2 separate regions of the Homo sapiens genome follow, and region 1 is linked to region 2. The links come from fine-mapping of genetic effects on gene expression. A gene starts in region 2. The other region holds a variant in brackets. All regions are shown on one strand. Distances are from middle to middle.

Region 1 (5,376 bases), 29 kb before region 2:
CTTTTATTTAGATTCAAACTGTTGATCAAACTCACGAAGTAAGGCAGAGGCGAGGTTGGAGCCATGTCGCCTGCCCCTAGACTCCACTGTTTGATTGTGTTGAATGATTTGCTAAACCTTCATAGGGTAAAGTTCCACCCAGGGGAGAAGGCCACAACTAGGGTATTTCCTACATGGTTTACCGCATGAGTTTACTCTCACCATAGTCCTATAAGATAGGTGTGGTTATTCTCAACTTACAAGGAGGAAACTGAGGCTCAGAGAGTGAAATATCTTCTCTAGTTACCAGCTAGAACCATCCTGGTTACTCAAGAGAAATCTGCCATTTTTCTCTATCACGCAAGATCCTGTAATATGACATGCTAAAATTTAGACACCAGGTATTCGTGGCAGACTTACCACCCACGAGTCTGGACTCCTAATCAAGAAAGGGAGTGAAGACCATCTGAAGGGCTGGTCTCAGGGAGCTCTGCATGTTCAGGCAATCATTGTTTTCTAGATCTGCAACTTCCTTTTTATAATTCATATTAGATGCCTTCGCATGCTTCTTGAAGGTCTTTCATTTCAGAACCCATTCTAAGAATTGTAATAGTCTTATCTCTGAGTGTTTAGGCAGCATTGACAACACTATCAACCACAGCAACTTCCATTTGTCCAATGCTTAGTGAAGCCACAGCCTCAAAGGACCACACCAAAAGTAGGAACAAGAGGGCTTCAATGATCTTCCCAAATCTATAGCTAGTAGGTGGTATAAATGGGACTTGAAGCCAGGTATTCTGGTTCCAAATATTATGGTTTTTTCCATTATAGTATGCAAGCTTTCATTCTACCTTTTTGAGCCCCACATTCTCTACCAGTACAGTGGAAATTGATTGTGCCTGGCCTTGTGGAGATGCTGTGTGAATGTTTATTGAACAAGTGTTTATTGAGCTTCTACTATGTGTCAGACATTGTTCTGGATACTGAGACACAGAGATAAACAAGATAGACAAAAACCTCACCTTGTTGGGCTTACAGTCTGATAGGGAAGGCAGTCAATAAGCTCTTTGCCAATTCTCAGGCACTTTACAAAAGCAATAAATTATTTTTCCATTGAGGATCTAATACAAATATGGGTCACACTATGCACTCATTCATTCCATTTATTTTTCTCATTTATTCATTCATTCATTCAATTATTCAAGTAAGCACCCAATATTACTGGATACCAATTATGTGTCAAGTACCGCTAGGTGATAGGAAAAGAGAAATAATAAGACAGATTGAAGCCCCACCTGAATGAGGTTTATGATATAGAATGGAGAACAGAAATTAAATTGAGGAAGTGTTATAAATAACAACAGCAATATCAAAACAGTAATGCAATAATAATAGCAGTGACATCCTCTTGGCTGGTTTGAGTAACAATTTACAGCTTATGAAGGATGCACAGTTAGGGCTTGCTAAGTCAACTTGAGCTGGGTGGAGGTTATGAGGTCCAGAAGTGAAGGGCATCTGACACAGGGGCGGTCCTGTGAGCTGTGAGCACAAGATGAGCTCCGACACCTGATGGCATCTTCATCGTACCCCCAGGTGGTGCTGAGATGAGGGCCATGGAAGATAGAGCCAGCCAAAGGTGTGAGGTTTTTGTGGGCAGACATTAATGGCACGGCAGGGGGTTGTCCTAGCAGTCTCACTGAACTTGTGTCAGCTTTCAGGCGCTATCTGAGAGTGAGTACCTGTTAGTCTTGGCCTGATGTCAGTCCTTCAGTTTCCTCATTTGAGAAATGGAGACAACCCAGGCATCTACTCCAGGTCAAGGACTCAGGGAAGGAGCGTGATATGGTTTGGCTCTGTGTCTCCATCCAAATCTCATGTTTAATTGTAATCCCCAGTGTTGGAGGTGGGGCCTGGCGGAAGGTATTTGGATCATGGGGGCGGTTTCTCTTGAGTGGTTAGCACCATCTTCTTGGTGCTGTCCTCAAAATAGAGTGAATTCTCACGAAATCTGGTGGTTTAAAAGTGTGTGTGGCACCTCCCTGCTCTCTCTTTTGCTCCTGCTCTGGCCATGTGACATGACTGCTCCCTCTTTGCCTTCCGCCATGATTCTAAGTTTCCTGAGGCATCTCCAGAAGCTGAGCAGAGGTCAGCATCATGCTTCCTGTACAGCATGCAGAACAATGAGCCAATTAAACCTCTTTAAAAAAAAATTATCCAGTCTCAGGTATTTCTTTATAGCAATGGGAGAATGGAGTAACAGAGTTCATGAAAGCAACATTTTATTTTTTGTTTTTGTTTTTGACGTGCAAGTTTGGTAAACAATGGGGTGGGAAATGAAGATTCCCTGCAGGCTGAAATATTCCTGTGACTTTCAAGTTATGGGATAGGATGGCCTCTCTTTCTTCCCCTGAGGTTTCCTCTTTCTTAAAGATTTC[T/C]GGTTTCCGACTGTCCAATATTAATGTTCCACTCCTAGAAGTGCATGTGCTTTCCCATCCATCTTGACTTTCTCCCCACCAGTCTCAAGCTTTTACTCAATCACATCAAACTTTAAATCAATCTTCTATGGCTCCTTATTGCTGAGCTTCCCTCACTTATTCTCCTGGAAAAAAAATAAAACATACAACAGAAACCTAGCCTGCTCTCAAAGTGATTTTTAAATTGCCTCTTCTAGAACATAATGTTGCATCAGCCATGGCAGGTAGGTGGGAGGGGGAAGTGTGGATTCCAAACTCCACCTGCCATGTTCCCTCCCCTGCTTCTTCCAAGGCCCCCAGCCCTTGTTCCAGCATGGTGAGGATTTTCTTGGCCTCAGCTGATATTAGAACACCAGCCCCATCTAAGTGGCCTTTCTGCTTCCAGCCTGGTCCTGGTCAGCCCCTATCTGTGCTGCTGCAGGATGACTCTCCTCTTGGGGCTCTGATGGCCAAGTATAAGCAACCCACAACCTTCACTGACCCCTATCGCAGCCCACGAAGTGAGGACCTAGATCCTGGGTGTGGCAGTGAAGCCCCTTTACAGGAGTCCTCTAGTCCCACATCTGCATTTTGTGTTCCTGCCTGTAGGATGAGCATCCTATGCCCTACGTCAGAGACTATGGGCTCCCCACTGGGTGTGGACTGCCAGACACATAGCATCCATGGACCTCCCACACATTCCTAGGTTCATTCTAAACACATCTTCCAAGAACCTCCAATATGCCAGGGCCTCTTCAGAGGCCAGCGTGGGGCTCAGTGGCCCTTTCTAGAAGAGGGAGCCCCTGGCCTGGCCTCCCCATTCTCCTCCTGGTCATCCAAAGAACCTCTAGCACTGTGGCCCTGCTGCATTCCGTTTTTTGGTTATAGTTTTTCTTTTCTTGTTTAAATTTTTAAAATACTTTAAAATATGGACTTACATGAAGATAGTCTCAACGTGAGAAATTACAATAACACAGAAAAAATGCAAGCTGACCCTGTTACCAACTCACTCCCCTGCCTCACATCCCTGCCCCATGGCTCTGACTTGTCTTATTTGTATGCTCAAAATCTCAAAAATAAATTATTTCCATCTTATTTCACTTTTTTTTTACAATGAAAGTTTACACTTGCACATAGTTTGAAGAATCAAGAGTTCTACACGGCTTATCATGAGGCAGCAAATTCTTCCCCTGCCATTGCCTGAATCTGTCACCACGTTCTATGGTCTCAGATGAGGTTTCTTTTCTATCTTTCTCCTTTTTTTAAGATATTTATTTCTAATTAGTATGCTTATGTTACTCCTTTTTGATTTTACATTTTAGTCATTGTCTGTGGAATTCCTAGCATGGGCAGTGAGATTTTGCTTTCTGCCCCTTCTCCACTCACCCATCCCTCCCCACACCGCCACCCACCGCCACCCAACCACACACCTTCCCAAATCTCCATGGTAATTTTGGTTATCTCAGTTAGTATTTAGTGTTTATACTCCCATCCTGGGGAGTTTATTTCAAGCATTTCTCTAAAGACTCTTTTTCCTTCATTTCTCTCTTCTCTTTTTCTAAAACTCCTTCTATTCGGACATTGGGTTGTCTCTCTTATTGTCCTCTTCTTCCTAGAAGTGTCAAGTTTTCATCCAACCCTTCTTTGGAGTTTTTTATTCATGATATCTTATTTCTGACTTCTGGGGATCGGTTCCTCCTCTGACTCTTCCGTATTTAGAGATTCTCTCTGAGGATATTACAGTAGTTTTGTATAACAGTTTTCTTCCCCCTGCACAGTATCTGCTGCCTGCAACTTGCTTTTTGTTTTCTTCCTCTTTTTGTCTTGGTTCCTCAAATGAGAGTGTTTCCTCAAATGTCTGCTGAACCAGGCCTATCACTCCCACTTGAGAATGGTTCTCTATGGAGCTGACTGGGTGGCGTCGGAGGATGGGGAGGGCATACACAGGAGGGTCCACCTCCGCCATTTTACTGGAGAACCTCTGGAGAAATTTACTGGAGAAAATTCATCAGTTTCCTTCCTGGGGGCTACTCCTGACTGCTGGGGCTTGGAAACCAAATGTGGATAGAGACTGGGGCCTAAGGAACTGGTCTGCACACTGATGTTCACCCAACCTTCCTGTTCTCTAAGATATTCCACCAAGAAAGGGCCAGAGTCCCCATTATAAAGGGCTCCCTTTTATTCTCAGAGAATACATACAACTCCAGTCTTACAGCTGAGTCGGGGCGGGCAGTCACCTCTTGGCACTGGATTGCTCAGAAAATCTGAGATCTAACTGCTCTTTTTTGGTTTTTTTTTTTTTTTTTTTTTTTTTTTTGGAGACAGAGTCTCGCTCTGCTGCCCAGGCTGAAGTGCAGTAGCGCTTATCTTGTCTCAACCTCTACCTCCCAGGTTCAAGCAAGTCTCCTGTCTCAGCCTCCCGAGTAGCTGGGATTACAGGCATGTGCCAGCACACCCGGCTAATTTTTGTATTTTTAGTAGAAACGGGGTTTCACCATGTTGGCTAGGCTGGTCTCGAACTCCTGACCTCAAATGATCTGCCTGCCTTGGCCTCCCAAAGTGCTGGGACTAGAGGCGTGAGCCACTGCGCCTGGCCCTAACTGCTTTTTTTTAAGTTAACCTTCACCCAGTGCTCCTGTCCTGAGCTCCTTTTTTGCCCTCATTTCCAGAGATATCTAGTCCTGCCAAGCCCCAAGTCTTTGAGGGGTTTTGTTTTGCAAACCAGACAGCTTCCATGCTCTCCTTTGTGCTGGTTTGGGATTTAGCTGTCTTGGATCAGCTAAATAAATCAGCAGCCTCTCCCTCATCTGTTTTCCTGCATCCAGAATGCTTTCTCCCCTCATGTTCTTTCCATCTAGTTGTGCTTGTGCCTTTAAAAACATCCTCTAGTGCTGTATCATGAAGTTTTGTGATGTGGAGGAGCCAAATGTGACTTTTAAATGTC
Region 2 (5,376 bases):
ATTTTATCACTGAAATAATCTACAGCTCTCATGGAGATGTACAGGGCCAGGTGCAGAGGTCTTCAGATAGTGTTGGGTTAGAGAGAAGGCAGAGGCCTTAGCATTGGACAGACAAATTTAGATCCCACATTTATTGGCTGGGCGACCATGATTCTTCTACATCTGTCAAAATGGTAACAATGATATCACATTATAGTGTAGTCATGAGAATTAAATGAGGTACAACAAAAGTGCCTGGAGCATGGGTGCACAATAAATGTTGGTTTACTTTCTTGTGGGACAATCACAAGAATAAGGCCATTGAAGGTACTTCATCATATTAATAGAGCTTTCTCTCCCCACCCCCAAAGTATTGACCAGGCTCTGAACATTCATCAAGGCTCCTGAGACATTGACACTCCTGCTACAGGAGATGGTTAAAGCTCCTATAACTTGGCCCATCAGTCTGATGATTTCCTTTAAAAGAAGGAGCCTCCTTAATAGCATCAACAATTTTATTTTGAAATATTGCAAACAAAGACAGAAATTCTAAAAGGAAAATATATACGAGTTAAAAACAGGTACATCTAGAAAAAAAACCCACTCTAATATAAAAATAAAGGGCAAGCAACAAATTGGGAAAATATTTGCAACATATGAGTCAGTGAAAGATGAGGCCAAATTTCCTAAGTACCGGGCCAGCTTGGGTAGAGACAGTGCTCCAGCCACCCAGGCAAATGCTTTCTCCTCTATCCAGCTATTCATCCACTCACTCAAAAAACACAGGTTGAGTGTCCACCAGGTACCTGGCATTGGGGGTATAATGATGTCCCCGAACAGAAATGGTTCCTGCTTTCACGAAGCTCATGGAGCAATGCAAGTGACAGATATTCACCAATCAGTCACACTCAGGAGTATACAACTGCAACCTATGGTAAATACCATAAAGAAAAGGAGAGATGGAGCAGAGGATCCAGCCTGGACTGGGGTGTGTGGGAAGACTTCCCTGGCTGGCAACACTTGAACTATACTATAACTGGAGGGTGAATAGGAATTAAGGTGTGTGTGTATGTTTGTATGCATGAACGCATGTGCACACACATACAGGCATGCATGTGCGCACATGTGAATGTGGGAGGCATTTCAGGGGAAAGAACGATGTGCAAAAGCCCTATGGTGGAAGCCTCATGGAACACTGAGGACTGGAAGAGGGCTGTATGGCTGGCCTATACGCACTAGATGCCAGTAGCACCCCTCAGTTGGAATAACCAAAAATACTCCAAACAATGCCAAATGTTCTCTAGTGGGGCAAATTGCTCCTGGTTGAGAACCATTGACTTAAAACAAACATTTATGAGAAATCCTGGATTTCAAAGACAGGCTGCCTGTAAGCCCCTTTGCTGAAGCACTGGTCTCTTACTAGCACTGTCCAATAGAAATATAAAAAATATAATATGAGTCACATATGTACTTGTAAATGTTCTAGTAGCTATAGTAAAAGAATGTAAAACAGGTAAAATTAGTTTTAATAATAGATTTTATTTAACCCAATATATCCAAAATACTGTCATTTCAGTAAAATAATTATTAATGAGATATTGTACATTCTTTTTTTGTACTAAATCATCAAAATTTGGTGTGTCTTTTTCTCAATTTGGACTAGTGACATGCCAAGTGCTTAGTAGCCACATGTGGCCAGTGGCCAGCTCATTACACAGGAGTGGGAGGGTGGAACTAAGCTCTCGCAGAGGTATCTGGCTTGTCCTATCCCTTGGGTCATCACTAGACTTGCCCCCTCCTCAGCAGAGCCATGCAAGTTCCTCCTTTGCCCATTGGGGTACACAGGGTTCAGCCCATGCGAAAGCACCCCACAGAGGGGTCCTGACGTCTGTGGAACACACTGGAAGGCTGGTCCCATCCAGGAAAATCATCCAAGTGCTTGCAGTGTGCTAATAAGATGGGTGTGTTCCCTGTGAATCCACAGGAGGCTGGAGGCCCCCCGCTGCAAACACCTGGTGAGACACAAACTGTTTCCAAGCTCCCAGGCAAATGCTCCATCCACCTCCAAAGACCCATCCTCCACTTCATTGTTTACAAAAGGAGCTCAGCCCTCCCAGATACTGGCCACCTGAAAAGACACATTCTATTTTTGTAAAAGACAGATGTTCTCATTCAAAATGACACTTTCCGTGGCTAAGAAGTTGTTGTCCATGGAGATGCTGTCTCTAGCCCCATACAGTGGCCAAGTCTTCAGGTCACTGTGCTGGGTCGCTGGCTGGACACAGGCTGGCTAGCCCAGTCCTGGACTCTCCTGACCCCCATCTCTTGCTGGTCTGAGTCTGCTCCCGCATCCACCCGTCCTGCCCCCAGACCCTGCAGCTTTCTGAGTGTTCTGGCAGGAAAGCCTGCCTGCCCCTGGCCTGCTTGAGGAAATACTGTCTGCAAAGCAGCGGGAACGAAGACCCTCGCTTGCACCCAGCTGTCTCTAGAAGCCAGGGCATGGCCTTCCCTGGTAAGGGGTGCTTCTGTGTTGGCCACAGGGCAAATCTTGGGCATTTCCTTTTTAGTAAAGAAGCAAAGTTTCCTTAAAGTTGCCACCAGGTCACCTGGAGCGACCGAGGGCCTCTGTAAAATGTGGAATGTGGGGCGAAGTGTGCACACCCACTGGGGCACTAAGCCGGCCACCGCCCTTTTGCAACTTCAGGTCGTGTCCCCACCCAGCCCAGGAGTTTCACGAGGAAGGGCACTTCCTCAGGAGGATGCTCACTATTCAGCGGCAATGGTCCCAGAACGCCCGCCCCATGTGACACATGGCGTGACGGCTGGCCAAGTGTCCGCGCACGTTTGCCAAGAGGCACATGCGGTGCCCAGAGAAACCCCAGAAAGTTGGACTTACCCCTCCTGGCCTGCCTGATCTTTGGGCTCAGCATGTTCTTGCAGCCGTCCGGCCAGCCCCGCAGGGCCGTTCATGCTGTCATCCACTTGCTTTTGCTCGTCCTCGCGCCTAGTCGCCCCTCATGTCCTGCTCGTTCGGGGCCCCGTGGCCGCTGGCGTCACCCGTCAGGCTCCCTCGGCTACCTCTCCTGGCTCCGGACGGACGGCTCGCCTTGGACTACATAAACCTCGATGCATTATTTATCCATCCCAGAATTAATTCCCATCCAAGCGGACCATTAAAGCCTCAGTAATCACTGCTGATCAATCACTGGACCAGGGCGGGGCAGTCCCTCCGCCTGGCCTGGGCGCACGCGTGGCTGTCCAAGCTGAGCGCGGGGGCGGGGCGGGGCCGAGAGGGGCGGGGCCAGCCAGAGACGCGGGGCGCGGTCCTGGCCCGGGAGAGGGTACTGGGGTTCCGGCCATCCTTTGCTGAGGCTGGAAGAAATGCGCCTTTCAGCCGCCGCCTGGGAGCCGCACTCCCTGCCAAGCCCGGGTGGGATAGCGCTTTGGTGAGAAGGTAGCCGAGACCCCCCCCCCACCCCAGAGCCCAATCCACGGGGACCCGCTTATGAGCTCACTGTTTTACGTGTTGAAAGTCAGGTGTGTCTGGGAAGGAGCAAGCAGCCCGGCAATGTAAACTCCTCAGGAGACTCCCAACAGGAAGATGCCTGTTAGGGATACTATTTATGCCTCTTTAGTAAGGTGACAGGAATAAGAGGGCAGGAAGCACTTAACTCAGGGCTCTTCATAGGAAGATCTGAATTGAATAGTGAATCTCTGCTAATTGCCATGTTTCTGTTTGATGCTGGCATAATTTTAAAGGGTGTATACTGGGGCTTTGTGAGGAGCGGAATCCAGCCTCAAGATGCTAAAAATTACCCAAGGAATGCAATCATAACAATAGCTATCATTTATTAGGCACCTACTATGTGTCAGGCACTGAGGCTGGTGCTTTACATTCAATATCTCATTTAACTCTCAAACTCCTGAAGCAGGTGCTATATATATAGCGTTTCAAATCTGGAAAATAAGGCACAGCAAGGTTGAATCACCTGCCCAAAGTCATACAGTACCGAGCAGCAGGGCGGGCACCAGAACCCAGGGCTGTGTCTACAGCTCCTGCTGCTCTGTGATGCCAGCCTCTCCACCCTATTCCCATCACTGCATGGTAACAGCTCCTGGCTTGAGCCCCCGATGAACTTGCTGAACGGTGACCTGCCTCTGTGCCCCTGATAATCACTCCGTGTATCCTCTTAGGCATCTGAGCTTGGGTCTGGCTATTTGGGCCTGAGAACTGTGTGACCCTTTCAGTAGCTGGTAAAGAGGGATTTGAACAATGCCCTCCCCTGCTCAGATGGCCATAGCCTCCATCTGACCCTCCACACTCCCTCGAGTGCCCCATGTCCACAGATCCCCAAGTGTCCTATTGGTATGTAATCAACTTTAGCAGCTGTAGAGGGAGAGAGCCCACCAGGAGATCACTGTGGCAGTCCTCCCTAGGGAACAGTGTGCCCTATGGAGAGGGGAGGACTGCAGAGTAAGAAGAAAGACTCACCAGGATGTGGTGAGCCACATGGCCAAGCTGGTGGGAGAAGGTAGAGTCCATGGACACAAAGCTGTCTTACTCAGCATCAAGTCACTTGTTCTGGTCTTCAGCTACTCCTCAGAGGGATGAATGAGTACCTTGGCATAACATTCCAGGTTCTTTCATGGTAGCATCCATGGACTCCTCTCTGACCTATCTCTTGCCGATGCTCTATACAACCATATGCACATACAGCGCCTGCTCCTGTGTGCCCCAGTGACTTTGCACATGCCTTGCTCCTGTGTGTTCCTGTTCTTGCATGTGCAGCCCCTGCTCTCCTGTGCCTCTGTGTTTTTGCACATGTAGCTGTGTCTTTGCACGTGCAGTTCCCTCTCTCTGGAATGCCCTTCCTCACATTGCCTTGTCCTCTTTGGGCAATTCCCCAATGAAATTCTCCTGATTCCACCAGCAGAATGAGCCACTAAGCACTTCCCCTGGGCCCTTATCTATGTCCCTGTACTGCCCCTCTTGTACGCCCTCCCTGAGCCCCAGGCTGACTCAGGCCAGAAGCCTCACAGGAAACTCTGGCTTCATGGGCAGATCCAAGAAACACCACTGAATGACAGAACTGACCTCCTTTTCCTTTAAGGCCAGGTACAAGCCCTGGTTGGGACAGGGGCCACCCATGAGGAGTGGGGAGAATATCAAGCTAGAAAATCTCATGTCGACACCAGGGTCACAGGGCAAGTCCTGTGGCTTGTGACAATGTCTTGAGCAATCAGGAAGCCATTTGTGAGTAATGCAGCCTGGACCACTTCATCCAAGTCAGAGGCAAGGAAATGCCCTGAGACTTAGTCTGGGTCCACTCACGCTTGTTTTGGTTAAGAAACCACCCCCAGGCGCTTTTCCTGTGCAGCTGTTTTCCCTGATGATAT

What was found. PIP is the estimated chance that this variant, and not a neighbour inherited with it, causes the effect. A credible set is the group of variants that fine-mapping cannot tell apart.
Region 1: its variant is the best candidate, but not a certain one, in a credible set for the expression of ARHGAP22 in whole blood (TOPMed, PIP 0.61).

Annotation. Positions count from the first base shown.
Region 1 is chr10:48,573,081-48,578,456 of GRCh38, forward strand. The region is part of intron 2 of ARHGAP22 (Rho GTPase activating protein 22); the gene reads right to left. Among named protein-coding and RNA genes, the nearest start is that of ARHGAP22, 29 kb to the right of the region's middle. RefSeq lists enhancers at 1,448-1,949, 4,320-4,369. The variant T/C (reference allele first, on the strand shown) is at 2,415.
Region 2 is chr10:48,601,888-48,607,263 of GRCh38, forward strand. ARHGAP22 (Rho GTPase activating protein 22) reads right to left here and starts at 3,186. Exons shown (of 10, transcript NM_021226.4): 1 at 2,876-3,186. The coding sequence starts at 2,909. RefSeq lists an enhancer at 2,607-3,337 and a silencer at 3,194-3,353.